Regions from separate parts of the Homo sapiens genome. Here regions 1, 2, 3, 4 and 5 are each reported to be linked to region 6. Evidence: microRNA targets listed by miRTarBase, many of them from high-throughput screens and not tested one by one. Region 6 holds a microRNA gene; each other region holds the end of a gene's coding sequence.
What was found. Region 6 holds the annotated microRNA hsa-miR-1470 (GCCCUCCGCCCGUGCACCCCG, at 2,505-2,525, opposite strand). A microRNA usually pairs through its seed, bases 2 to 8, with sites in the 3' UTR of a target mRNA and lowers its output. Matches are read on the target gene's strand: a 7mer-m8 pairs with bases 2 to 8, a 7mer-A1 pairs with bases 2 to 7 and ends in A, and an 8mer does both.

Region 1: miRTarBase lists TBL2 as a target of hsa-miR-1470. Seed matches in the 3' UTR shown: 7mer-A1 at 326-332.
Region 2: the mRNA of PHF21B is a reported target of hsa-miR-1470. Seed matches in the 3' UTR shown: 7mer-A1 at 363-369.
Region 3: miRTarBase lists GABRG2 as a target of hsa-miR-1470. Seed matches in the 3' UTR shown: 7mer-A1 at 2,712-2,718.
Region 4: the mRNA of SEC63 is a reported target of hsa-miR-1470. Seed matches in the 3' UTR shown: 7mer-A1 at 2,019-2,025 and 7mer-A1 at 1,003-1,009.
Region 5: miRTarBase lists ARSL as a target of hsa-miR-1470. The part of its 3' UTR that is shown has no 7-base or 8-base seed match.

The regions. Positions count from the first base shown.
Region 1 is chr7:73,566,712-73,570,799 of GRCh38, reverse strand. It overlaps TBL2 (transducin beta like 2), which reads left to right. Exons shown (of 7, transcript NM_012453.4): 7 at 1-3,263. The coding sequence ends at 293. Among named protein-coding and RNA genes, the nearest start is that of TBL2, 9.8 kb to the left of the region's middle.
Region 2 is chr22:44,879,237-44,883,320 of GRCh38, reverse strand. It overlaps PHF21B (PHD finger protein 21B), which reads left to right. Exons shown (of 13, transcript NM_138415.5): 13 at 17-2,159. The coding sequence ends at 235. Among named protein-coding and RNA genes, the nearest start is that of ARHGAP8, 130 kb to the right of the region's middle.
Region 3 is chr5:162,152,712-162,156,783 of GRCh38, reverse strand. GABRG2 (gamma-aminobutyric acid type A receptor subunit gamma2) reads right to left here. Exons shown (of 10, transcript NM_198904.4): 10 at 1,258-3,691. The coding sequence ends at 3,416. Among named protein-coding and RNA genes, the nearest start is that of GABRG2, 87 kb to the right of the region's middle.
Region 4 is chr6:107,868,004-107,872,091 of GRCh38, forward strand. It overlaps SEC63 (SEC63 protein translocation regulator), which reads right to left. Exons shown (of 21, transcript NM_007214.5): 21 at 1-3,844. The coding sequence ends at 3,701. Among named protein-coding and RNA genes, the nearest start is that of SCML4, 46 kb to the left of the region's middle.
Region 5 is chrX:2,931,115-2,935,202 of GRCh38, forward strand. ARSL (arylsulfatase L) reads right to left here. Exons shown (of 11, transcript NM_000047.3): 11 at 3,407-4,076. The coding sequence ends at 3,718. Among named protein-coding and RNA genes, the nearest start is that of ARSD, 3.8 kb to the left of the region's middle.
Region 6 is chr19:15,448,001-15,452,072 of GRCh38, reverse strand. It overlaps MIR1470 (microRNA 1470), which reads right to left and starts at 2,525; the gene lies at 2,465-2,525. WIZ (WIZ zinc finger) reads left to right here and starts at 2,117. Exons shown (of 13, transcript NM_001371589.1): 1 at 2,117-2,275; 2 at 3,706-3,970. The coding sequence starts at 3,766. It overlaps RASAL3 (RAS protein activator like 3), which reads left to right. Exons shown (of 18, transcript NM_022904.3): 17 at 1-28; 18 at 135-449. The coding sequence ends at 278. RefSeq lists silencers at 2,093-2,222, 2,273-2,392, 2,743-2,852.

The DNA.
Region 1 (4,088 bases), not on the chromosome of region 6:
GCAGTAGTATTCATCTCTACAATACCCGGCGGGGCGAGAAGGAGGAGTGCTTTGAGCGGGTCCATGGCGAGTGTATCGCCAACTTGTCCTTTGACATCACTGGCCGCTTTCTGGCCTCCTGTGGGGACCGGGCGGTGCGGCTGTTTCACAACACTCCTGGCCACCGAGCCATGGTGGAGGAGATGCAGGGCCACCTGAAGCGGGCCTCCAACGAGAGCACCCGCCAGAGGCTGCAGCAGCAGCTGACCCAGGCCCAAGAGACCCTGAAGAGCCTGGGTGCCCTGAAGAAGTGACTCTGGGAGGGCCCGGCGCAGAGGATTGAGGAGGAGGGATCTGGCCTCCTCATGGCACTGCTGCCATCTTTCCTCCCAGGTGGAAGCCTTTCAGAAGGAGTCTCCTGGTTTTCTTACTGGTGGCCCTGCTTCTTCCCATTGAAACTACTCTTGTCTACTTAGGTCTCTCTCTTCTTGCTGGCTGTGACTCCTCCCTGACTAGTGGCCAAGGTGCTTTTCTTCCTCCCAGGCCCAGTGGGTGGAATCTGTCCCCACCTGGCACTGAGGAGAATGGTAGAGAGGAGAGGAGAGAGAGAGAGAATGTGATTTTTGGCCTTGTGGCAGCACATCCTCACACCCAAAGAAGTTTGTAAATGTTCCAGAACAACCTAGAGAACACCTGAGTACTAAGCAGCAGTTTTGCAAGGATGGGAGACTGGGATAGCTTCCCATCACAGAACTGTGTTCCATCAAAAAGACACTAAGGGATTTCCTTCTGGGCCTCAGTTCTATTTGTAAGATGGAGAATAATCCTCTCTGTGAACTCCTTGCAAAGATGATATGAGGCTAAGAGAATATCAAGTCCCCAGGTCTGGAAGAAAAGTAGAAAAGAGTAGTACTATTGTCCAATGTCATGAAAGTGGTAAAAGTGGGAACCAGTGTGCTTTGAAACCAAATTAGAAACACATTCCTTGGGAAGGCAAAGTTTTCTGGGACTTGATCATACATTTTATATGGTTGGGACTTCTCTCTTCGGGAGATGATATCTTGTTTAAGGAGACCTCTTTTCAGTTCATCAAGTTCATCAGATATTTGAGTGCCCACTCTGTGCCCAAATAAATATGAGCTGGGGATTAAATACGAATAAGACATGGTTTCTGCCATCAAAGATGGCTGGTGGGAGAGAGAGATACACCCTTATTAAGTGCTTTGTGTTAGTTTATTCATAGCTATTGTTATATATGTCAAGGCAAGAGAGGACCAGAGCAGGACAGAGGCAATGGGTATTGAAGTTGAAGGGGTACATTTGATAAGAGAGTCGGTATTGAGAAGTTTAAATTTGTGAATTTGAAGGCTGCGTGGGTGTGGCAGGTAAGGGAAATGAGGTATCTGGGAAGGCTTGAGTGTAGGCAAATTTATTCATCCCAAGTCAAACTCTTGATCTCTCTCACGAAAACTATGACCCCCCCTGGTTGCCCCTGACCTCTCAATGTTGGAACAAGCCACAACCGTGGAGTTATCCTTGATGACTCCCCATTCATTATCCCTTCTGTCCCACCACCACAGCTGTCATCTGTTCACCAGAACGTTCTTTTGGTTACACTCCATGTGACATCCTGAGGCTGTTGCTTCTCTCCAGCTTTTCTGTTACCATCCTGGTCCTGGCTACTGTCACCTAGTGGGCCACTATAATATGGCTTCCTAATGGATCTTCCTGCTTCCTCTGTTGCCTCATTACTTTTCTATATAGCAGAATGATCTTTTGAAAATGTGAACCAGATCACATTATTCCCTAGTTAAAACCCCCCAAGGCTTCCCATCACACTTGGAATAAAATCCAAAAGAATTTTTCTAAACCAAAAATAGTAAAAACAATTTTTTTTTTCTGACAATCTCTTGTCACCCAGGCTGGAGTACAATGGCGCAATCTCGGCTCACTGCAACCGCCGCCTCCTAGGTTCAAGCGATTCTCCTGCCTCAGCCTCCAGAGTAGCTGGGATTACAGGCATGTGCCACCACGCCTGGCTAATTTTTGTATTTTTAGTAGAGACAGGGTTTCACGATGTTGGCCAGGCTGCTCTCGAACTCCTGACCTCAAATGATCCACCACCCCCCTTGGCCTCCCCAAGTGCTGGGATTACAGGTGTGAGCCATCGTGCCTAGCTAAAAACACTTAATCCAAAATTCTTACCATGGCCTGCAAGGTCCTGTGTAACCTGGCTTCGTCCCCCCTCTAAATGCTATGAATGTCAGATGGGCACCGTAAATGTGTGAAGGGTCAGTTACCTGGGTGTAAGGCAGTAGAAGGTGGGGACAGAAGTGAGCTGGAGGGCGGGCTTGTGTCCTGCCTGCAGGATGGGGGGTGGCTGCTACTTATTCAGGAATCCAGCAGAAATTGCTTCACAGAAGCTAGAAGTGAGCAACTTAAATAACTAAACACTATCTGGACCAAACAAAACACTAAGGTCGGCCCGATGCAGTCCACTACTCTCTTATTGGCAGCTTCTGGCTCACTGTTGAACCCACTGGAATGAGAGCACCACCGGGCAGACTCCTGGACCATCCCACTGTCAGCTCTGTGGTCCAGGCACAGTACCTGGGACAGTGTAAGCACTCAATGTGAAACTCAAGCCAGGGGCAAGCCACAGACCTCCCAGTATCTTCTCCGCGCATCTTCCCACTCCCAGTCTCCATTGTGGTTTTGTATGTTCCTAACCACAGACTTTTGGCAATGCTGTGCACACAAGGCCTGAGGAGTATTTCCTTGGCAATTGTCAGAAGAATGAGACTAAAACACTTCCTTTGCGCACCTGTTCTTAGAAGCAGCTCTGGCATTACTCCCGTTGTGTATCCAGGACAGGAAGTGGCAGTAGAATGTTGAGTTACTGAAGTCAGATGTCTTCAGTTCCAGTTCCAGCTGGAGAGCAGATAGTAGGTCCGTTGACCTCTCTGAGCTTGTTTCCTCAGCTGCAAAATAAGAATGAATCCTGTGCTACCCACCTTGCCATGTTGTGTTTCAGTGAGACGAGAAAACACTACCAAAAAGTCATTCCACAGACTTCTGAGGACAGAAAGTGCCCTCACTCAAGCTTCTCTTGTAACCACAGAGAAGGTGTCTGGATATTAACATAGAGCAGAGGCCACCAAGGTTTTTCTTTTTTTTAATCAAAAATCCTGCATGTGAAGGCAGTAATTGTATCTTAATATTATAATTTCAACATCTGTGGGTGTGAAATTTTTCAAAAAAAAAATTTGGGGAAATATTTTAAATGGCGGTGTATAGCCTATTTTGGTGTTTTGTTTGTTTTAGAGTTGGGGTCTCACTCCTTCATCCAGACTGGAGTGTGGTGGTGCCATCATGGCTCACTGCAGCCTCGACTTCCTGGGCTCAAGTGATCTTCTCACCCCAGCCTCCCAAGTAGCTAGGATCACAGGCGCATGCCATCACACCTGTCTGTTTTGTGTAGAGATGGGGGTCTTACTGTGTTGCCCAGGCTGGGGCTTGCAGTCGTTTAAACCATGCAATACACAGATTAAGATGGTGGTGCCATCTCAACAGTGGCCTGCCACTTCCCAGGGAGTCTTCCTTCCTCAGTGCAGTCCACCCTCCTCCTGGCTACTTTCCTGGGGTTTGGTTGCAAGTGGGTCTTCCACCACCTGCATCCAACACTCGGGCGCATGAGGAAAACCAACTCTTTAATTTGCTTATCTGTGATAACTTGAAGCCCTGGATAGTGTCTTGCATATGGACATGTTTTCACAATTATAGCTACTCCAGTAAAGTCACATTTCAGAGACTGACAGCTTGGGAAAGGCACAAAAAGTTTTGTTACTGTGTTATCTACAATGAATGTGCAATTCTTATGTAATGTTCATTGCAGCAGTATTCAGAATAGCAAAGACATGGAATCAACCCAAATGCCCATCAATGATAGACTGGATAAAGAAAATGTGGTACATATACACCATGGAATACTATGCAGTCACAAAAAGAACAAGACCATGTCCTTTGCAGGGACATGAATGGAGCTGGAGGTCATTATCCTTAGCAAACTAACCCAAGAACAGAAAACCAAACACTGCATGTTCTCACTT
Region 2 (4,084 bases), not on the chromosome of region 6:
ACCTTCTCCCCAACAGAAATGCCTGGAGTTGAAGACAAGCCTGCTGGCCCGCCAGAGGGGCACCCAGTCATCCCTGGACCGCCTGCGGGCCCTCCTGAGACTGATACAGGGCGAGCAGCTGCTCCAGGTCACCATGACGACCACTAGCCCTGCCCCACTGCTGGCCGGGCCCTGGACCAAGCCCTCAGTGGCAGCCACACACCCCACCGTCCAGCACCCCCAGGGCCACAACTGACCCCGAGGGACCAGTCTTCATACCCACGGAAAGTTATTGGGACCCTGCTTACACAGCCTGGGGGTTCTGTCGGCCTTAATTCATAAACACTATGAATTTCAGACAAAAATTAACCAGACAGAGGAGAGGAGGGAGGAAGAGCTGGGCGAGAGGCCTAGAGCCAGGACCAGGTGGGGGTGCGGCCCTGTGCCCTCCAAATTCACAGGGGGTACCTAGGAGCCAGGTGGGGTACGACAGGCTGGGGCACACAGTCTCCCCCCGGCCACCTCGGGGCTGCCTGGGCCTCTGGCTTCCAGGCCCTGCTCTCCACGGCCTCCCTCTGGCCCGTTGGAGGGGCAGGCTGAGGCTGTGGAGGGGACAAGCACGCCCCCCAGAACGCAGTCTCCACTGAGGGCACCGCCTATTGGTGTCCTGTGGGAGGGCGAGCTGAGAACACATGGACTAGCTGAGTGGTAGCGGTAGTTGGGACGAGAAGCGGGGTAGTGGATCTAGGTAGTTCCTCAATGCCCCACGCTCCTAGGAGGTCCCCCTGGGGTGGGCGGGCGGGCCTGGGGCACTCCGTCGCCTTTGCAGAACCACCTGGGCCCCTTTCTGTCAGTATTATTAGGGTTACGAATTGCAGCTGTTTAACTTGAAAGACACTGTCGGAGGTGAGCATCTGGGCGCCGGGACGCTGCAGTGATCCCCGCCAGAGCCTGTGCCCTTCCTGCTCCGTCTTTGGGGTCCTCAAGGCTGCCTCCTTCCTTTTGCCAATCTCTTGGACTCAGTTTGCCGTTGATGCGTTTTTCTCATGGAGTTTCTGGGCAGAGTGGAGCTGCAACCCTGTTGTGGGGGGCAGCATTTGGCAGGTTTTCTCCTTGGGGTTGAATCATTCAACTTAACGACTGAAGCCCTTTCTTGTCTCCTTTGGAAGAGCCGATAAGTATTCCACTCCTCCCTTCTTGCCAGTGCAGACACTATGCCAAAAAATAACTTCACACTTTTGTATGGCGTTTTTATTGTGAGATATTTAATGTGAATGGTTGGGGGGACTCTGGCTGACTTCCTTTCTGCTTCTAGTAGTCTCTGCTTCAAGGTACAAATGGGAACACCTCCCCTCGGGAAGCCTGGCCAAGCTGGAAGATCCGGCAGGTTTTTTACGAGCCGGGTGGAGGGTTGGGGAGGAAAGAAAGGGCGGTGGCTCGGGAGGTTCCGGCCTTCGGGGACCAGACTTGCTGCCAAGGGCTTCTGCATCCAGGGTGGGCAGTGGCAGCTTGTCACCCTTGCCCGATTCCCACATCCCAGTCCTGAGGGACTCAGCACAACAGGATAAGCGTCCAGGAGCCACGGGCTCCCACCCCGAGCATATCACATGGTGCCGAATTGCACTGAACACGCGTGTGTGCATCGCACGCGGCCACGACCACAGACACGCATGCACACACGCAGAGGTGCAGAGCGAGGAGGCCGGCAAATCCCGCAGCTGCCACGGTCCCTCCTGTCATTCTCACGACTCCGGGAGAAACTGTGCTGTATGATACAGATCTATTTTAATACACTTACCACTGGGTGAACAAGATTTTTATATTCTTTTATTGATGAACAAAGTGAACCGTGTGAGGCACACGTCTTCTATATTGGCTACTCTGTGCCAAGTATGCATTACCGCGTGGCTTGCGATGTCCATGTCTTCAGCTTCCTTTTCTGTTGGTTTGGTTTTCTTCGCGGATGGATTGAGTTACATGTTTTAACAGTGTAATGGGAGGATCTGAAAGGTTGGACCCGGGAGGGGTAGCTGCCGATGTGTCTTGAGATTGTTAGGTTTTTTTTGGACCAAGGAGGACCGTCCAGTGGGTAGTGAGGATAGAGAAAAAGTGTTTGTCTTAAATACGCCAATGTAGTTTTCCTTCTTTACAATGTATTAAACTCGATCGATGATTTCAAAGCCCTGTGGTTTTGGTGTCCTTGCGTTGCGGAGAGGCCCCCGGGAGTGCCCAGGGCAGCCAGGTGGGCGTTGGAGGGGCTGGAAATCAGGGTCTTCTCCCATCCTGAGGAGGGAGGGATGGAGGGAGGGAAACAGGGAGAGAGCTCAGTGCCCTCCACTCACTCACCCCCGATTCCCAGTCCTCAGAGGCGGCGGGTGACCCTTTAGGGCTAGGATTGAGGGTGGAAAGTCTTGGAAACCCAGCAGGTCTGTCACTGTGCAGAGCCCAAGGTGGTGCCCTCTGCTCCCTCATGGGTTCCTGCCTCTCAGCCTGGCAACATCACCGCTGTCTCTCTCCCCCAGCAGCGGGTACAGGCGCTCCTGCAGCCACGCTGAGCTTACACCTTGCCCTACAAGAGGTGGGGAATCAGCCCCCCTGAGTCCTAGCTCCTGGCATTGCACGGGGGACTCTGATTGGCCAAGTGGGTCGGGGCCGACCCCTGGGCAGTTAGCTGTGGCCAGAGGCTGGGGTCTAATGCCAAAGTGGGGTCCGGTGCCCCAGGGGACAGAGAGGTGGAGGGCATGCAGGGCTGCCACACAGTCCCGCTTCATGGCTTGCCCTGGGGAGAATAGTTTGGGAGGAGGGGAGCAGGTTTCAAGTCAGCTCTGCCTGAGCCCTCCTGGGGGCCACTCAAAAGACCACACTCGGCATCCGTGGCTCACTCCTGTCCTCTTTGGATTCTCTTCAGTCCGACTCCCCACCCCTTTGCACCTCTGGAACACCAGGTCAGTAGTGACCTCCCATGGCCAGATCCCCGGGGTGCTCCCGGTCATCACCTGGACCTCTCAGAACCAGAGGACACATTGGCCACACCCCCTGCCAAAGGAGGCTCCTGGGACCTCACTCCTGCCAATGTGGCTGCTCCCTGGTCTCTGCTCCAGACTTGCTTCTCTTCTACCTAATCACTGAAGGCCCAGGTCTGTGTTCAGATCTCCCGCAGCCGGCCTTCACCTGCCCCTGGCTTCTGTCTGTACCCCCAGGCCCACTGTACGGCTGCGGGTGTCTCACGCTCTGCACAGTCTCTACCAGGCCAGTCCCTCCCACCTCCCCATCTCAGAGGAGCTTCAGGCTGCTGGGGCTGGCACCCTGGGAGTCACTCTTGGCTCTTTTCTCCCACCTTGCATACCTGGTCCTTGGCAAATCCATCAGCTCCGCCCTCAGGACATAAGCAGGATGGGACAAGCCTCACCGCCCACCCCAAAATCACCTTGGTCCCAGCCCCATGATCTCCCCTGGATTCCGGCAGCTGCCACCCACCTGCTCTTTCCAAACCCTGCCCCGCTGCAGTCTCTTCTCAACCCAGCAACTAGTGTGATGGCGACGCTGTCAAAACCCTGCCATCCGGGCGCCTGTAATCCCAGCTACTTGGGAGGCTGAGGCAGGAGAATCGCTTGAAACCGGAAGGTGGAGGTTGCAGTGAGCTGAAATCACACCGCTGCACTCCAGCCTGGGCGAAAGAGCGAAACTCCGTCTCAAAAAACAAACAAAACCCTGCTGCCCTGTGTCTCGTTCAGCAAAAGCTAAAGGCCTCACCCTACTCACCTTACTTGTGCCTCCAGGGCCACAGGCCCCGCTTGCTCTGGCCTCTGGTTTATGCCCTGCTCCTCTCCTCCTTGCCTGCCTCCTCGCTTGCTCCCACCGCAGGGCCTTTGCATGTGCTGTGCCCTCGGCCCCCAGCCATCTCCCTGAAGACCTGACCCTGAGCACCGCCTCCTCGCAGTGCCGCCTTCCAGCCCCCTCGCCAGGACCCTGGCATTGCCTGTCCTTCTGCCTGCTCTTTGGTTCCTTGAGCTTCCACAGCCTGCTGTGTGCACCCCTGTGGGTTTTTATCTGTCTACTCAGGAAGATAGGGAGTTTGGTTGGTTTTCTTTCCAAACCCCAGCAT
Region 3 (4,072 bases), not on the chromosome of region 6:
GACATAATCCCTGAAGACCACATCATTTTGTTAACTTAATTTGACCTTCATTGCAGACAAAAATTTTTGCTACTAGTCAGAATAATATTGAGACTTAATGCAAGGAATGAAGGCCATATAAAGATATGAATTCAGCTAAAGTTCAGGGCATTGAGTTAGACAGCAGACAACATCTAAGTGAAAACTATATTTTTATAGGTTTGGAAGGTGAGAAATAGATGATTAAATTAGATGCAGGAAGATATGAGGGGCCAAGAGAATGGGGCCAAGGATGGTTAGGGCAGCTGTGTTGTGAAGATAATATTATATTCCTGGGAGAATTTCAAAAGAGTTCAAGAAAACATGACATTGTCTCTGGAGTAGGGCTAATCAACTTTGTATGTTTGTAAATTTTGAGGGTACAAATAACAGTTCTTTGGCCTTAAAAATAACTAATGTAATGTGTAAGTTTTTTTCCAATGAGACAGAAATTTCCCACATATAGTTTAAAAGACTTGCAATGCAAATATTTCCTAAAAATAAAAATAGAGTGATGTAGAGTCACTTAAAGGCTTATATGCCTAATGCTGGATTCTATTAGGGAAGCTAGTTTGATAGGATGAAGGGAGCATGACAGCAGTGCATGGAAGGCATCGGAAGTGAGGGAGAGAGCTTTTGACCATTTGTTGAGTGTCACTACATAGGTTAGCATTGGTATATCTAATTTATAGCTGCTAAAATGGAGACTTCTAGCTGGGCATGGTGGCATGCATCTGTAGTTCCAGCTATTCAGGAGGCTGAGGCAGGAGGAATGCTTTAGCTCAGAAGTTTGAGGCTTCAGTGAGCTATGACTGTGCCACTATACTTCAGACTGAGTGACAGAGGGACACCCCATCTCTAAACAAATAAACAAATACATAAATTATTTTTAATGGAGGATTCTAAAGTCTGAATTGACAATTGTCTAACAACTGGTAAATAGTAAAGCTGGGATCCCAACTTTGTCTGGCACTGGAATTAATGTTAACCACACCGAAATTCTTGAGGTAGAGAAGACTTGAATTTTTACTTACTTTATTACATGTCTGCCTTTCTTCTTCACTCTACAACCCACATGCCTCTCTTAATTTTTTTGAGGTGAAGAGTACCGCCATGCAAAACACAGTCACACAGCTCACAGATAAAGCTCACTGAGAGGGGATTTGGGGAAATGAGGCAGGAAAGAGAGGTCACAATCTCTAAGACAAACAGTCCCACCAGACTACTGAGATGCCACCATGGATTAGAATGCAGCATTTTTATTGTAAAAGTCCACATGTTAGGCAATTCCCTTTGTGAAAAGGTTTCCAAATACATAGACAGGGAGCAGCTTATAATAAGTATTAGATTATATATAATATATATTCATATTGCCAATACTATGCACACATTGGAAAGCTAGCTTTTTGTAGTGTCCCCATTACAGAACACATTTCAAGTTGACAATAATGTTTCTCACCATTGAAACTTGCCAACAACTCTCCCAAAGAGTCAACATTTAATATATTGACAATTCAAAACAAGAAAATAATTCGTTCTATTTACATTTGTTTGAGGTTATATACTGGAGCACTGATATATTAAAGGTTTGTAAAACTGGCAGCTAAATGTGTTTCAAGATTCATCCAGATGACTTGATGATGACTTTACATGGTTTTATACTGACAAAGCCACTCTCTCTTCTTTTCTATTCTTTTTAGGTTATCTGTAAAGTTATACTAGCTATGATTTAATTATGACAGAGTAATAATTTCCATAAAAATAATTAACAAAGGGTGCTATTTTAGAAAAATAAGGATTCAGGATGAGTACATGAAGATAGAGCTCAACTCATCATGTTTTAAGTCTGGAGAAATTGCTTTGTTTAACTACAATGTAATCTAATGAGGCCACAGTCATTGGCTCAACCTCTATGTGAGTCATTCATTTTTTTTTTTCAGTTTTTAAAAGCTAATCTTCAATACTTTTTCGCACAGAATGCTACATTCTGAACACTAGTCAGGTATGAATTTTGCTTATTCCTGTTATAAGTTCACAAACAAAATTGTGGATGGGCAAGGACTGACTCATCCCCAAACCTGGAAAAATAATACACAAACTCTAATTATGCCCTAGTAGAGTCATGTCTATACACAAACATAGGACATAAATATTGTTTTAAAAGGAGTATGGACTTTGCCTAAAATAATTTTTTGAAGATGAACATAAATAGCTAAAGTTCTTTGGATCCTACTGGTTATTTTTACAAAATCAAATATCACTTGACAACACCTATGTGAGAAGATGAGTCACTGGTTTCAGGCCAGCACAGAGATTTGCCAGAAGCATGTGAGGGCAATTCACTTCAAACCATATTTATTGAGCACCAACTATATGCCAGGCACTATGCAAGGTGCTACAGACCCAAAGAGGAAATGACAAGGATTCTGCCCACAAGGCACTCACAATCACTAGAAGCAGATCTTGAGATGGAGAATAAGTTCTGTTATGATCTATCATCCTAAAAGGAAGAAAAAAATAGCGGCAAGCACATACAATTACTTTATACTCTAGTTATGAAATTGGGCATATTTAGAGGTGGCAAATGTTGATTATCCAGTCTATATTTTACTTAAAGTGTTGTAATATGTCATACAAGGAAAAAATAAGCTGTTCGAATCTTCATGCATGAGGGAGAAGGCAATGAAAATTCCTCCCTCCATTTCCAAACCCAAATCCTTATAATTACATTCAGGAATCTTTTATAGCCCAAGGACACAAAATAAAAGACAATAGGATGATAACTTCAGTCCATTTATTTTGGATCTAAAGAGATGCATGCACTAAACTTGAAGCATTCTAAGTTATTGAAATATTTACATCATTGTACATGAATGTGGAGGAAATTTTCTTCCTATCTTGAGATAAAGGTGTAATAGATTTCTGGACTAGGCTTTCATATTTAAAGTGAGTTATGATTTTTCTTAAATGAGGGAGGTATTCTATTGGGATCAAATTTATCACAACTTGACCCGGAGTGAACATAGGGTACAGTTTTGGACCTTTTCTATCTAATTGCATTATGAATCTAGTAAGGATACCACTACTGTAAATAGTCAGGGCTTTCACTGTTTTATTTGCTGTAGCTGAAAAATATCTTATTTGGTTTGAATGTTCTTGCTCTAATTTTACTTTGCCTTGCAGGTTTGAAACACAGCAAACATCGAAGTTCAAAGTACACTAACCAAAGGAGGGCTGGGCACAAACAATATGACATTATAAAATTTACCAGGTTTGGACATAGAAACAGATTCAGATCATTATCAACCACATAGAGGATTATTTAAGTGGACTTAGAACAGACATCTCTCCATGAGACTCAGTGAATAAGAACCATATCAGTAAAACCCATACCTCCTCACAGGTAGAGGTAGGAGACCCAATAGACCAGATTAAACAGGCAGAAGGCAGTGGGGAAGAAGATCCGAGCATAGGAGTCCATTTTGGCAATGCGGATATGTATCCTCCCATGTCTCCAAGCTCCTGTTCGACAATCTTCAAAACAGCAGAAAAAACTGGCACAGTCCTTGCCGTCCAGACACTCATAGCCGTACTCTTCATCTCTCTCTTGAAGGTGTGTAGCATTATTCATTTGAATGGTTGCTGATCTTGGGCGGATATCAATGGTAGGGGCCTGGGACGAGGGTAGGGAAGGAGAGGGATCAGTTAGTTGTTCTCGAGAGATCCTAGGCTGTTTTTCCACAATGTCACCAATGTGATGATGAATCTGAAAATGGGTACTCAGGAAATTGCTATGACATCATGATCTACAATGGTAAAATTGAACTTAGAAAGATAGCACATTTGCAGATTTCAAATTTTGAGCTTAAGCAGTGCAGCTGAAAATAATATCATCAAGCTAATAGCTATAGCAAGGAGATTGAACACCAAAAGAACTCAAAGTTAAATATTTAAATCAAATTACATGGAATCTTATTCTAGTAAGTATTAGATGTGACATTGGTTACATGAAGGCATTTGATGGTGCTGCATGTGAGTGGAACAGAGAAATAAA
Region 4 (4,088 bases), not on the chromosome of region 6:
TATGTACAAGATCGCATCTTTTTAAGTTTTGCAAAATAGCCCTAGCATCAAGTTTAAATGGATGAGAATGCTTGGTGCTAACTTCTTGAGACATATTTGGACTAATCACTACACAGCTGGCAAAATGTTATGGTTCACCAACAGTTATTTCACTTTAAGGCAGTCTAAATAGAGGATTTCATGGAGTTAAATCAGACCGTTTGTGGGAAAATTGTTTCTTAAAAAAAAAAAAACATTTTAAAGGAAAGGATGATGATTTGTTGTTTTTGTTTTTTTTCCAAAAAAACCCAACAGGCTGGGCGCAGTGGCTCATGCCTGTAATGCCAGCACTTTGGGAGGCTGAGGAGGGCTGATCACTTGAGGCCAGGAGTTCGAGACCAGGCTGGACAACGTGGCAAAATCCCATCTCTACTAAAAATTAAAAAATTAGCTGGGTGTGGTGGCATGCACCTGCAGTCCCAGCTACTCAGGAGGCTGAGGCAGAAGAATCGCTTGAAGCTGGGAGGCGGAGGTTGCAGTGAGCTGAGATCGTGCCACTGCACTCCTCCAGCCTGGAGGACAGAGCGAGACTCCGTCTTAAGAAGAAAAAGAGAAAGAGAGAAAAAAAGGCCAGCAAAATAAACAGCTAGCCCCTAAAGAAATAATTCTTCTGCCTACAGTAGATAGACTAAAAAAAAAAAAAGGCATTCCAAATAATAGCCAAGGCAAATGGATTTAAATGGATTGCCACTCATCTACCTGCTCTAACACCAGCGAGTGAGTTCTTAACACTATTTTTTTCATTTTGATAGCTCCAGTATCCAGTCACAGAGCCTGGCACATAGAAACTCAGTAAATATGTGATGAATGACAACCTCTCAAAAATTATGTAAGGTGCTGAATTACATTTGAAATAAGAATTGTGACTACAGAACACTCTAGTATATGGTTTGGATTGGCTGAAGCAAACTGAACAAAACTTGTGGTCAAAAATAACATGCCTAGAGAGCCTCATTATATCTCTCCCTCCCTGTTTCCACATCAGTTGTTTGACATCCACGCCCCCTGCTTCCACCAGAGCCTGAGCTTCCCCATACACAGTGGGACAGTACAGCTGGACAGGCCTGTCCTTTTCCAGCCCTCAGTGAAAGCTGGGAGAAGCAGAGCAGAAGGTATTGTTCTACACAGAGAACTTCACTCAATGTGCTCCCTAACTTAAAAAAAAAATTATGAAAAATGTTTAAAAAATTCAAAAAGGACATGAACATCTAACTCTGAGATTGAGATATTAACACCTCAGGGCCTCAATCAAATATTATAATGCTAAAATACACAACTGCTACACTTTGAATTGTGGTAAGTCTCCTCATGAACAGCTGTATTTTAATAGGTACTTTACCAATTAGAGAAAAATATCACATAATTTAACTGTTTCAATTTCACTTCCTATACACTGTATGATCTATAGGCTCATCAATTGTTGACAAAATGTCAGTTTCTTTATAGGAAGAAAATTGAAACTTTGCTCAAGTTTCCATTAGATTAAATGCAAACTAGGATAGTTTGTTATTCTCATTCCAGAGGAAAAACGAAGGGATGTGGAGTTTAGCGACTTGCTGGAGAGAGAAGAACTATCAACTGAAGGCTCAGTTCTTTCACTACTGCCATATGGAAAGAGGTTACCTAAAGCACTCACTAGAGGAAATTTTATTTTACTTAGTTGGGAAGTACATACACATCACACAAAGAGAAAAGGAAAACAAACTGGTGGAATTTTCTGGTGATGGTAGTTTTTTTTTTTTTTTTTTTTTTAAGCACTGTGGTGTTACTAGGTTATCATCCTCTCCAGAATCTTAAAACCAGAGAAGCCAGCTGTGTGAATGAACTTATAAAGCCTCTTTAAGGCAAAGTAGCCACTAGAAAAAAAAAAACAACTTTTCTTGAAATCTTTCAAGAAAACTAGGAAATATGCATTCTACACATTGTTCTGTCTTGTCTGCTCAGTTTCCTTGCCTTCGTGCCACACCTGTTTTCTCTAATCCCTCCTTTCACTTGACACCAGCTGGCTTACCCCCTGCCACCACACTTAGGTAATCAGTAGCTGCCTCAAGACACTGGTGCTTCACAGCAGAACCTGATTTGAAAATTAAACCCACCCTCCTACTTGTACAATGAAGTAAATGAAAAAAATCCTCAGTGACACTGCCTCCTGCCTGCCAAGAAAGGCTCTCACTAAACTGGTGATTGAGGTTATAGAGAAAGAAACTGCTTTCACCCTTTTATAGGAAATATTACATCTTAAATTTAGAACCAAAAAAACCATTCATGGTTTTGCTAATTTTCACATTTTATTTCCAACTATTGCAGTAACAAGATGCCGGTAGTATTCTGCACTGAAAGTGGCAACCTTTTAAAGTAAACAAGGTTGCAAATTTTAGTATTCCAACAATATTTTGACCTATGGAGATTTTGATAGGAAAGAATTATTACAATCAGTTTTATAATACTACAGACTTATGTTTCCTCCATATCTAGGAATAAAAATATCCACCCTCCCTCAATGATTCATCATGTACACATCTCTACTCTTTACAAGCACTATCCTTCCAGTTGTACTATGAGGGGAAATCCCTCTCACTCCTGGGTTTTTCTACAGTATACAGAAATAGCAGTCACTTTAGCAGTAATGTACAATACTATTCAATCTTTAGTTGAAAAATAAAGAAGTGGATTGCCCTATTTATGTCCTGATAGTAAAAAGACACACACCATTGAAACATAAAACGAGTCAACAAACTTCTATTTTTATTGACAGGAGTCCAAAATGAATACAAAAAAAGCTTCCTTTGCATGTTATACTTACTTTCCTTAAAAAGCTCCTGATAGAGTCAAGTAGACTGAAAACTAAGGATGTAGTTCAGCTTTTAGAGTGAACCTTTTTTAAAAAAGGTTTAATAACATAAGCCACCAGTATCAGAAAACATACAGTCCCACTATCACTTTTAGAGCTAGAACTTATCAAAAGAATTAGATCCTGCATTGATCTGCTAAGATAGAGGTTTAGAAATGGTTTAAGCCATTAAAAGCCATTTTTATAATCTGTCTGATAACTCTGGGCAATTAAGAAAAGGAAAATTCCAAAACGTAGCCCTCTATATCATGTGGAATGTGAGAGAATGCCAACTTATGACCAAGATAAGTAAAAATAAAAGTTTAAATCTATGAGTGGAGCTGTTGTATCACTGCAAAATGTCAACAACAGAGCTTATCAAGAGATTATCAACTTGAGCGATGTTACTTAAACTTGAGCGATGTTACTTAAAACATATTTGTGGTGTTTGCTAAAACTAAAGCTGAACAAAGAAAAGTCGCTCATTTACAGACTGTGTTTCCTGCATCTTTACTTTTACTGGGACCATAGACTGATCAGATAATACATAGCCCACACTTCTGGACAGTTATAATAACAAAGGATTTATTATCATTTGCAGATGAAATAAATGTACCATCCCCTACTTGAAAGGTTTCAATAAGCCTTAACATTTTTCAGGTTGTACCAAGGCACCGCCACTGCCTAGTTATATTATGCACCCATTTCAAGAGTAAAAAAACTACACCTCCCTCAACATCAGTTCTGTACTGTTTCTGGTTTATGATACACTTCCAAAACAGCAAAAAATTGCAAATATGTGCAAACACTGTGGTCCATTCAGAGTACTGCTTAGTCATCATCTTCTTCTTCCTCCTCTTCTTCCTCAAAGCTATCTTCAAAGCCCTCACTGTCCTCCTGGTCTTCATCCCCCTCTATTGCTGTATCCCACTGTGGGTGATTTTCTGGCACAGGCTTAGCCTCATGAACTTCCAACTAGAAAGAAGAATTAAATGTAGACATCAGAAATTTGGGGAGAAATAATGGAAGAAATCTTGGTAAACAAAAGGTTTTCTTTGACCACAGCAATTACAAAGAAATAGTTTTTTATGGACACAATTCTAAATTCAACTCATTCATTTAGAACAGACACTTCATCCCAGAAATAAAACAAGTAAATTTAACAATATGTAAATGTAGTTAAATTTCTAATACAGTTTGATATTTTGATTCTGTATGT
Region 5 (4,088 bases), not on the chromosome of region 6:
AAAACATAGATTCAGAAGCCCCTCCTTAAATTCACTGAGTTAGGATTTTCATAAATGAGGGAGCTGCCCCACACTCCCCTGGGATGAGATGATGGGGGTGCTTGTTCAAGACAATACAGTCAGGAGCCCTACTCCCTAAATTTATTCAATTGGAATCTCCCAAAATGGTGCTGGGAATTCTATTTAGAAAAAAGACCATTCACTTTTAATTGGCAAATTTAGTTCATTTACATTTATTACGCTGGCCATCTGTCTGGAGCTAGCTCTTGAGCACTGTTTATTGCTTCTCTCTTTGCCCTGTTACTCTGAAATAGCTTTTATCAGACAGGCTTGGTGGCTCACACCTGTAATCCCAGCACTTTGGGAGACTGAGGGGGAAGGATTGCTTGAAACCAGGAGTTTGAGAACAGCCTGCGAAACACAGAGAGACCCTGTCTCTACAAAAAAATTTTTTTAAGTTAGCCGGGCATGGTGGTGTGCCTGTAGTCCCAGCTATTTGGGAGGCTGAGGTGGGAGAGTCATCTGAGTGCAGGAATTTGAGGTTGCAGTGAGCTGATTGCACCGTTGCACTCCAGACTGGGTGACAGAGCAAGACCCTGTCTCTAAAAAAATTTAAAAAAGAACTTTTTTATCTTTGAGGGCTTCCCAACTGGGATTCCTTGCTGAGCCTCTGTCATGCAGATGGAGAAGGCCAGGCCGAGGCCTGGAAGGAGGGGGGCAGGAGACAGCCCAGAAGCAGTTCTGCAAGGAGGTTTAGCAGGGGTGGCGCGGAGATTTGATCCTTGGAAGAAATCCTATGCTGCTGGGAGTTGAGATTCCTGAGAACTAGAGAGAAAAGAACTTTGGGTGCCCTTAGGTAAATTATGTAAACACACTGAGCTGTCTTGGGTGCCCAGGATTTGGAAATGGGGCCTGGGGGCAGTAGGAGCTGGTGCTCCAGAAGTCATATTTGCGGGAGGTTGTGGGGATGGAAAGGGTGGGTAAGCCCTGACCCTGAGGGTCTCACATGACTTTCAGCACATGGAGCCTCCATGGGGACTTTGGCTTCAAAGCCATCAAGCTCAAGAGTGTGGGCAAGTGTGGAGACAGAGGTGACTCTCCCCAGTGGATGCTGAAGAACTTAAAGGTGACTCTGTGGGCCGGGAACATCGGGCACAGCTGACCCAAAGTGCTGGTCTTGTTCCATAAGCCATGGCTATGGGGAAAGCCATAGGGGTTAACTGGTTCTTCCTGCCATCCCTCCCTCCCTTTCTTCCTTTTTCTTTTTGCTTCTTTGCTTTCCTTCCTTCCTGCCATTTTTTCCTTCCTTTCTTTTTAGAGATGAGGTCTCGCCCTGTCGCCCAGTGGCACGATCACAGCTCAGTGTAGCCTTGGACACTTTGGGAGGCCAAAGGCTCAAGTGATCCTCCCGCCTCAGCCTCCCAAGTAGGTGGGACTATAGGCACGTGTCACCACACCTAATTATTTAAATGTTATGCGGAGGCAGGGTCTCGCTATGTCACCCCAGCTGGTCTGAAACTCCTGGCCTCAAGCCATCTTAGTGCCCTAAAGTGCTGGGACTACAGATGTGAGTCACCGCACCTGGCCTACTATTTCTTTCTTGACCCAAGAGAATTGGCTGGAGATGGATTTGACTTTTTGGTCTGTATGCACAGCCTGAATTCTTGGAGGCTGATGTGGATTGGATAATTTGAGGACATGTTCTTGAGGCGGTGACAAGGTGGGGCATTGCTCGTCACATACCTAGGCTTGGAAGAGTGGGAGGAGGGACCTGTTGCTTGAATCTGGAGACAGAAAGAGCTATTGGAAAGACCTCCTTACTCCCAGGGGAGAATGTGCTGGGGACTGAATTGTGTTGCCTTCAAACTCACAGGAATAAGGTTTTTATTCATCCTTTAAAATGAGGTCACAAGAGTGGGCCCTATTCCAATAGGAGTGGGGTCCTTATAAGAAGAGGAGATTAGGGCCGGGTGCAGTGACTCACGCCTGTAATCTCAGCACTTTGGGAGGCCAAGGTGGGCGGATCACTTGAGGTCGGGAGTTCTAGACCAGCCTGGGCAACATGGTGAAAACCCACCTCTACTAAATAATACAAAAATTAGCCGGGCATGGTGGTGCACGCCTGTAGTCCCACCTACTCGGGAGGCTGAGACAGGGGAATCACTTGAACCTGTGGCAGAGGTTGCAGTGAGCTGAGATCACGCCATTGCACTCCAGCCTGGGCAACAGAGCAAGACCCCATCTCAAAAAAAAACAAAAAACAAAAAACAAGAATCAGAGATAGGACACAGACAGGCACAGAGGGATGACCGTGTGAAGACATGGGAAGAAGGCAGCAGCTGTGAACCGAGAAACAGGTTCTCCCCAGACACAGCTTCCGTCACGCCGTGGTCTTGGACATCCAGCCTCTAGAACTGCAAGAAAGAAATATTCTTGATGATACCCAGTTTATGGTATTTTCATTCTAGCAGCCCAGACAATTAAGGCGCAGCCTGATTATGCAATGACCTTGCAGCTCAGAGCTGGGGCGAACACTTCCTGCACAGCGCGGCTTCCACAGCCAGAGTTTGCCCAAATCACCTGGGGCATTGGAGACAAAGGAAAACCACTTGAAAACAGTTCCAACGGGAAGCACGGCTCATCCTTGTGGCCGTAAACGATAAACAAACACTATAAATGGGCACCACAGACAAAGCCACATCAGTGCCAGTTTTTATCTTTGGGGCCTATCTCCTGTTCATGTGCAAACCTGTAGGTCACAGAGACACCTTTGCTGGGACTTGTGCTGTTTTGGGCTACAGGGCAGCCTCTTCCAGACTGAGCTGGGGTCCATTGACAGACTCCTCCCCGACTGCAGGAGATACTTTGCCTCTCCAGTTTGGTGTCTGAGTGATCATTCAACGGTGCATTATTAATGTTTGTTTGTTTATTTATTTATTTTTGATGAGACAGTCTTGCTCTGTCACCCAGGCTGGGGTGCAGTGGTACGACCTCAGCTCACTGCAACCTCTGCCTCCCGGCTTCAAGCAATTCTTCTGCCTCAGCCTCCTGAGTAGCTGGCATTATAGGCGTGTGCCACCACACCTGGCTGCTGCTGCTGCTTTTTTTTTTTTTTTTTTTTTTGATAGAGACAGGGTTTCACCATGTTGGTCGGGCTGGTCTCGAACTCCTGACCTCAAGTGATCTGCCTGCCTCTGTCTCCCAAAGTGCCGGGATTACAGGCGTGAGCCACTGCGCCTGGCCAGTGTTTATTGTTCATTTCTACTTTCTCTTGCCTTTTCCTTTGTTTTTCACAGGGGGAAACTATTCATCCTTATGCAAATAGATATCTTAACATGACACTGAAGTTTGTTTCATTTTTTTGTTTTCTTTCTTTTTTGAGACAGGGTCTTGCTCTGTTGCCCAGGCTGGGGTGCAGTGGTACAATCATAGCTCAGTACAGCCTCCAACTCCGGTGCTCAAATGATCCTCCTGCCTTAGCCTCCTGAGAAGCTAGAACTACAGGCGTGTGCCACCATGCAGGCTAATTTTTTTTTTATTTTTGTTTTGTAGAGCTAGAGTTTCATCATGTTGCCCAGGTTGGTTTTGATCACGGGAGTGATCCTCCTGTGGTGGCCTCCTAAAGTGCTGGGATGACAACCACCATGGCCAGCTGGTTTGTTTCAATTTGAGTGACAAAATTTAGGAATCGGGGCTCCAGCTTTTCACTGCAGACATTTATTGTGGGTCATCTTCCCTAAGGCACCAGCAGAGGGGGAACGGGCCACAGCAGGGCTGCAGCCACGGTCTCCAGATGTTGCCCAGCCTGTCCAGCTGCAGAGGAACTGGGCTGAGTGTCCGCTGGTGTTCCCACACCGCCTGCTGGACTCGTTCCATCACCTGATAGAACACGGGCTCTGAGGCTGGTGTGAGGATGTGGGTCTCAGAAGGGTCTCTTGAGAGGTCAAAGAGCAAAGGTGGATCGTGGTGGACTACTTTTTCCCCAAAGCACGGGCAGACCTTTCTTCCATAGCAGGCACCGGCTCCCTCTGGCTGGAACACAGGCGTCACAAAGTGGACTTTCCACATTGTTCCTCCTGGTGGAAAGA
Region 6 (4,072 bases):
CAATGAAGGGCACAGTCTGAAAAACCTGGTGAGATTGCCATCTGAGCCCTGGGGCAGGTCTGGGCGGTGGAGGAGCAAGGGTTGCGGTGCAGCCCTCTCCTGGTTTCTGAACCCCATCACCACTGCCTCCCCAGGAGCACCGCCTAAATGAGATGGAGAGAACTCAGGCTCAGCTGAGGGATGCTGTCCAGAGCCTGCAGCTTTCTCCAAGGACGCGGGGGTCTTGGAGTCAACCCCAGCCCCTCAAAGCACCCTGCCTCAATGGAGACACCACCTGAGCTGCCCATCCTGCCTCATCACACGTGGTCTGGGAGCAGAGAGATAGCCATCTTAGGGGGGGTGTCTGACTTTGCCTTAGCCCTACTTGGCCTACAGTGGGGAGTGGAGCTGCTGGTCCCAACCACTCTGGCAGTATGAAGTTGCCCAGTAAAATCTTGATTTCAGTGAAATTGGTGGTTTCTTTGCCCACTAAGAATTGCCAATTCTTAGGCATTTGCCCCGCAAGCCCTATTCATCTCTCCCAAATTCTCCCCTAATTAGAAGTCTCATGGAGAGGGCCATGTACACAAGTTCTCACCAGCTGTGTGACCTTAGACCTTCATTCTCTTAAGAGCCCGTTTTCTTATCTGTGAAATGGACGTAAAGTTCCCTACACAGTGAGAGGACCCATAGTTAAAGGCATTCGATAAAAGGTATTCACCATTGTTATAGGCAGCACCTGCTTCTCAATGAAGCATGGATTCCACCCCTGGCAACCTCCCAATCCCACAGTGAGAGCATCTTCCTAGGCCCTCCTCATGTCACGGAGGCCATGGGTCTGGGAGGCGGATAAAGGAAGGGGGTCAGGTGTGGAGATGGTTGGATACTGTGTATGAATGATTGGGTAAATGAGTCATTCAAATCATGGGTGAGTGGATGGGTGAGGGGTAGAGTGGGTGGAGCAAACGGCAGACGGATAGGTTAGCATTTGCTGGATGTTTGACCTGGTAGGTGAGTAGCTGGGTAGTTGGTTAACCAGGTTGGGTATGTCTGCCTAGAAAAGGCCTGGTTCATAGTAAGAAAAAATTTTTTTCAATGTTGTGATTATATATATCATATGTACATATGTTGAGGTCTCCTGAGACGCCTGAGAACTGGGCAGTGGAGAAACAATAATGAACTAGACAGGACTCCTGGCCTCATGGAACTTACATGTTAGTGGAGGGACCAAATCAACAGACAAACTGGTGGATGGATGTTTGGGGGGCTGGGCGGAAAGATGTGTGTGGGGATGGTTGGGTACTTGCTTGGTTGTATGGATAAATGAGTATTTACTTGGGTGCTGGATGAATGGGTGGGTAGATGGGAAGTGAATGGGTGGGTTGAGTGGGTGTTTGGGTGAATTAATAGGTGGTTGGAGGGGTGGGTGGATAGGTGATTAGTTCATTGGATAGGTAGATGAGTGATTGATAGATTGAGGAAGTGGATGAGATAGCTAGGTGGTTAGATATCTGGATACATGGTGGATAAGACAAGACAACAGGCCATGATGTGTGTCTGATGGGGTAGTCCTGGAAGCTGTGATCCTGGGAACTGGGTGGAGAAGGTGACTTAGGACTGAAGACCTAGGGCAACTCTAGGGACATGGAGGTGCTGAAGTCCAGTGTGGATGATTGGGAAGGAGGGAGTGAGCTTGTGGTTGGAAGGTAGCTGATGGGGGGCAGGGGACAAAAGGCTAAAAATTGGCTGGGTGGAGTCTTCAATGACCTATCAATGACCCATCAATGACCCATGGGGGAACTTCTCTGCACCCTCCCCACTCTTTTAGTGCTTTTAGCGAGCCTACCATTGGAAGTACCAGTGGGACGATAAGGAGCCATTGGGGTGTGGGACGACAAGGGTGTTGTCATGGTAACGGGGCCTCTCCCTGGACTCAGGCCGTGCGGGCCCTTTAAGGGTGACCCGCTTGGCCACTCCCAACATGGCGGCGCGCCCGCTGGCCGCCCCCCCCGGGGCGGCGAGGGGGGGGGGGGTGGGGTGGGGGGGGCGCCCCGGACCTCCCCATCATGGCGGCGCGGCGGGGCTGTCGCGCTGAGGTCACGGCGGCGCGCCGGGGGGGCGGGGCGGCGGGGGGAGCGATTTAAAGGGACAATGTCCCCCGAGCGGTGGAGGCGGCGGCGGCTGCGGAGGCCGCGGCACCGGCACCGGGAGCGGCAGCGGCGGTAGCGGCAGCGACGGCCGCACCAAGGAGGGGAGCTCCGAGCCCCGGCACCTGGCCGGCGGCGCCGCCTCCCCGGTGAGGCCCGGCCCGGCCTGGGGAGCCCGCGGGTGGGGCGGAGCCGTAGCGGGGCGGGGGAGGCCCCGGGCCGGGCCGGGCCAGGCGGGACCCCCCGGGGCGGGGGCGGGGGCGGGGCCTTCAGGGGCGGGGCCTGGCCGGGGGCGGGGCCGTGCAGGTGGGGGGAGGGGCGGGGGTCTTGGGGCAGGTGTCCCCCCTACCTCGGCGCGTCCCGCGGGGTCTCCTGCCCCGGGGTGCACGGGCGGAGGGCTCATCCCCCGGACCCTGGACCCCCGAGGAGTGGGCCCGCGCGGCGCAGCCCCCACCTCTGCGACCCCTGGGGGGCGTCCGGGTAGGAGCCCCCTCCCCACGCTGCCAAAGTGCTCCGAAGTTGCGGTCCCGCCCGTTCCCCGCGGGCAGTGCCCACCCAGTGGACAACCGCAGGTGCTTCCTCCGGGCCTGGGTAGGGACCCCCACCAAGACTGCCAGCCCACGGAGGAGCCCCCTGGGAATCCCCAGGCCCCCGAGGGCAGCGCCTGCAACCAGGCCTGGCGCCCCGGCCCCGCCCCGGTTGCCTGGGCCCGGCCTCCCCACCATCTCCCTGGGGAGGGCGCCTCATTCCTGCCCTTCACTTTCCGCCGTTACCTTGAAGGTATTTATAGGTAGAGAGGACAACCCCCGCTCCCCAGGGTCCTCATTTCTGGACCAGGAGCCCTATCGTTTTCTTTCGCCCGAGGACTAGAGCAATCTTGGTTGGGGGGTGGGGGGAATGGAGGAGCCCAAGCTGGGTATGCATGAGGGATAATGTTGGGGAGAAGCGAAAGGGTTAATGCTGGGGTCACTTGAGGCTGTGTGTGTGGAGGGGGGTGAAGGGGTTAATGCTGGAGAACCCTAAGGTCCTGTGTGGGGGAAGGGTTGGAGTGTGGGAAAAGTGCAGGGATCATTGGTATGGGACAACCCAATGGAGAAAAGTAAAGGGGTAATGATGGGAGACTCCTGACGGTGTATAGGATCAGAGTGTACAAGTGGCTGGGATTCTTGCCGAGGAAACGAAGGCATGGCAGTAGGATGTGCGTGTGCATGGATGTGAGGGCAGGACTGGGGAAAGTGCAGCTGTGTGTGAATGAAGGGAGGCGTCTGGAGAAATGGTAAGATTGATGGAAGAAGACCAGGTGGCTGAGTGTGCATGTGTCAATATGGGTAAACTGAGGCAGTGCAGGATCTGTATAAAGGGGAGGAGTTATTGATGGGGAGACGGAGGCATGCTGAGGGTAGGGGCCATTGGGATAGAAGGTGTGTGGAAAAGGTCTGAACACCATTAGCTCCCCTGGGCTGGGAGGTAAACTGAGGCAGTGAGCTGCAAAGTTGAGGACTGAGGTTTTGAGGGATGGGAAACTGAGGCAGATTCCCTTTCCTCCATCCCCTAAGCACTTCCTTCTCTCTATCCCCAGGCCCACAATGCCCCGCTGAGCCGGTGCAGCAGCTGAGTGGATCCAAGCAGAGAAAATCCGATGGAGGGGTCTCTGGCAGGCAGCCTGGCTGCACCAGATCGTCCCCAAGGCCCAGAGAGACTGCCTGGCCCGGCGCCAAGGGAGAACATCGAGGGTGGGGCCGAAGCTGCTGAGGGGGAAGGTGGCATCTTCCGGTCCACCCGTTACCTGCCTGTCACCAAGGAGGGCCCCCGAGACATTCTGGATGGCAGAGGTGGCATCTCTGGTAAGAGAATGGGCCGTGTGGCCCCCAGGGAGCATCCAGCCCATTCCCCAAGGCTCAGAGAGAGTCAAGTCACCCAGCGCAGCAGCGGCTGAGCTGGGATGC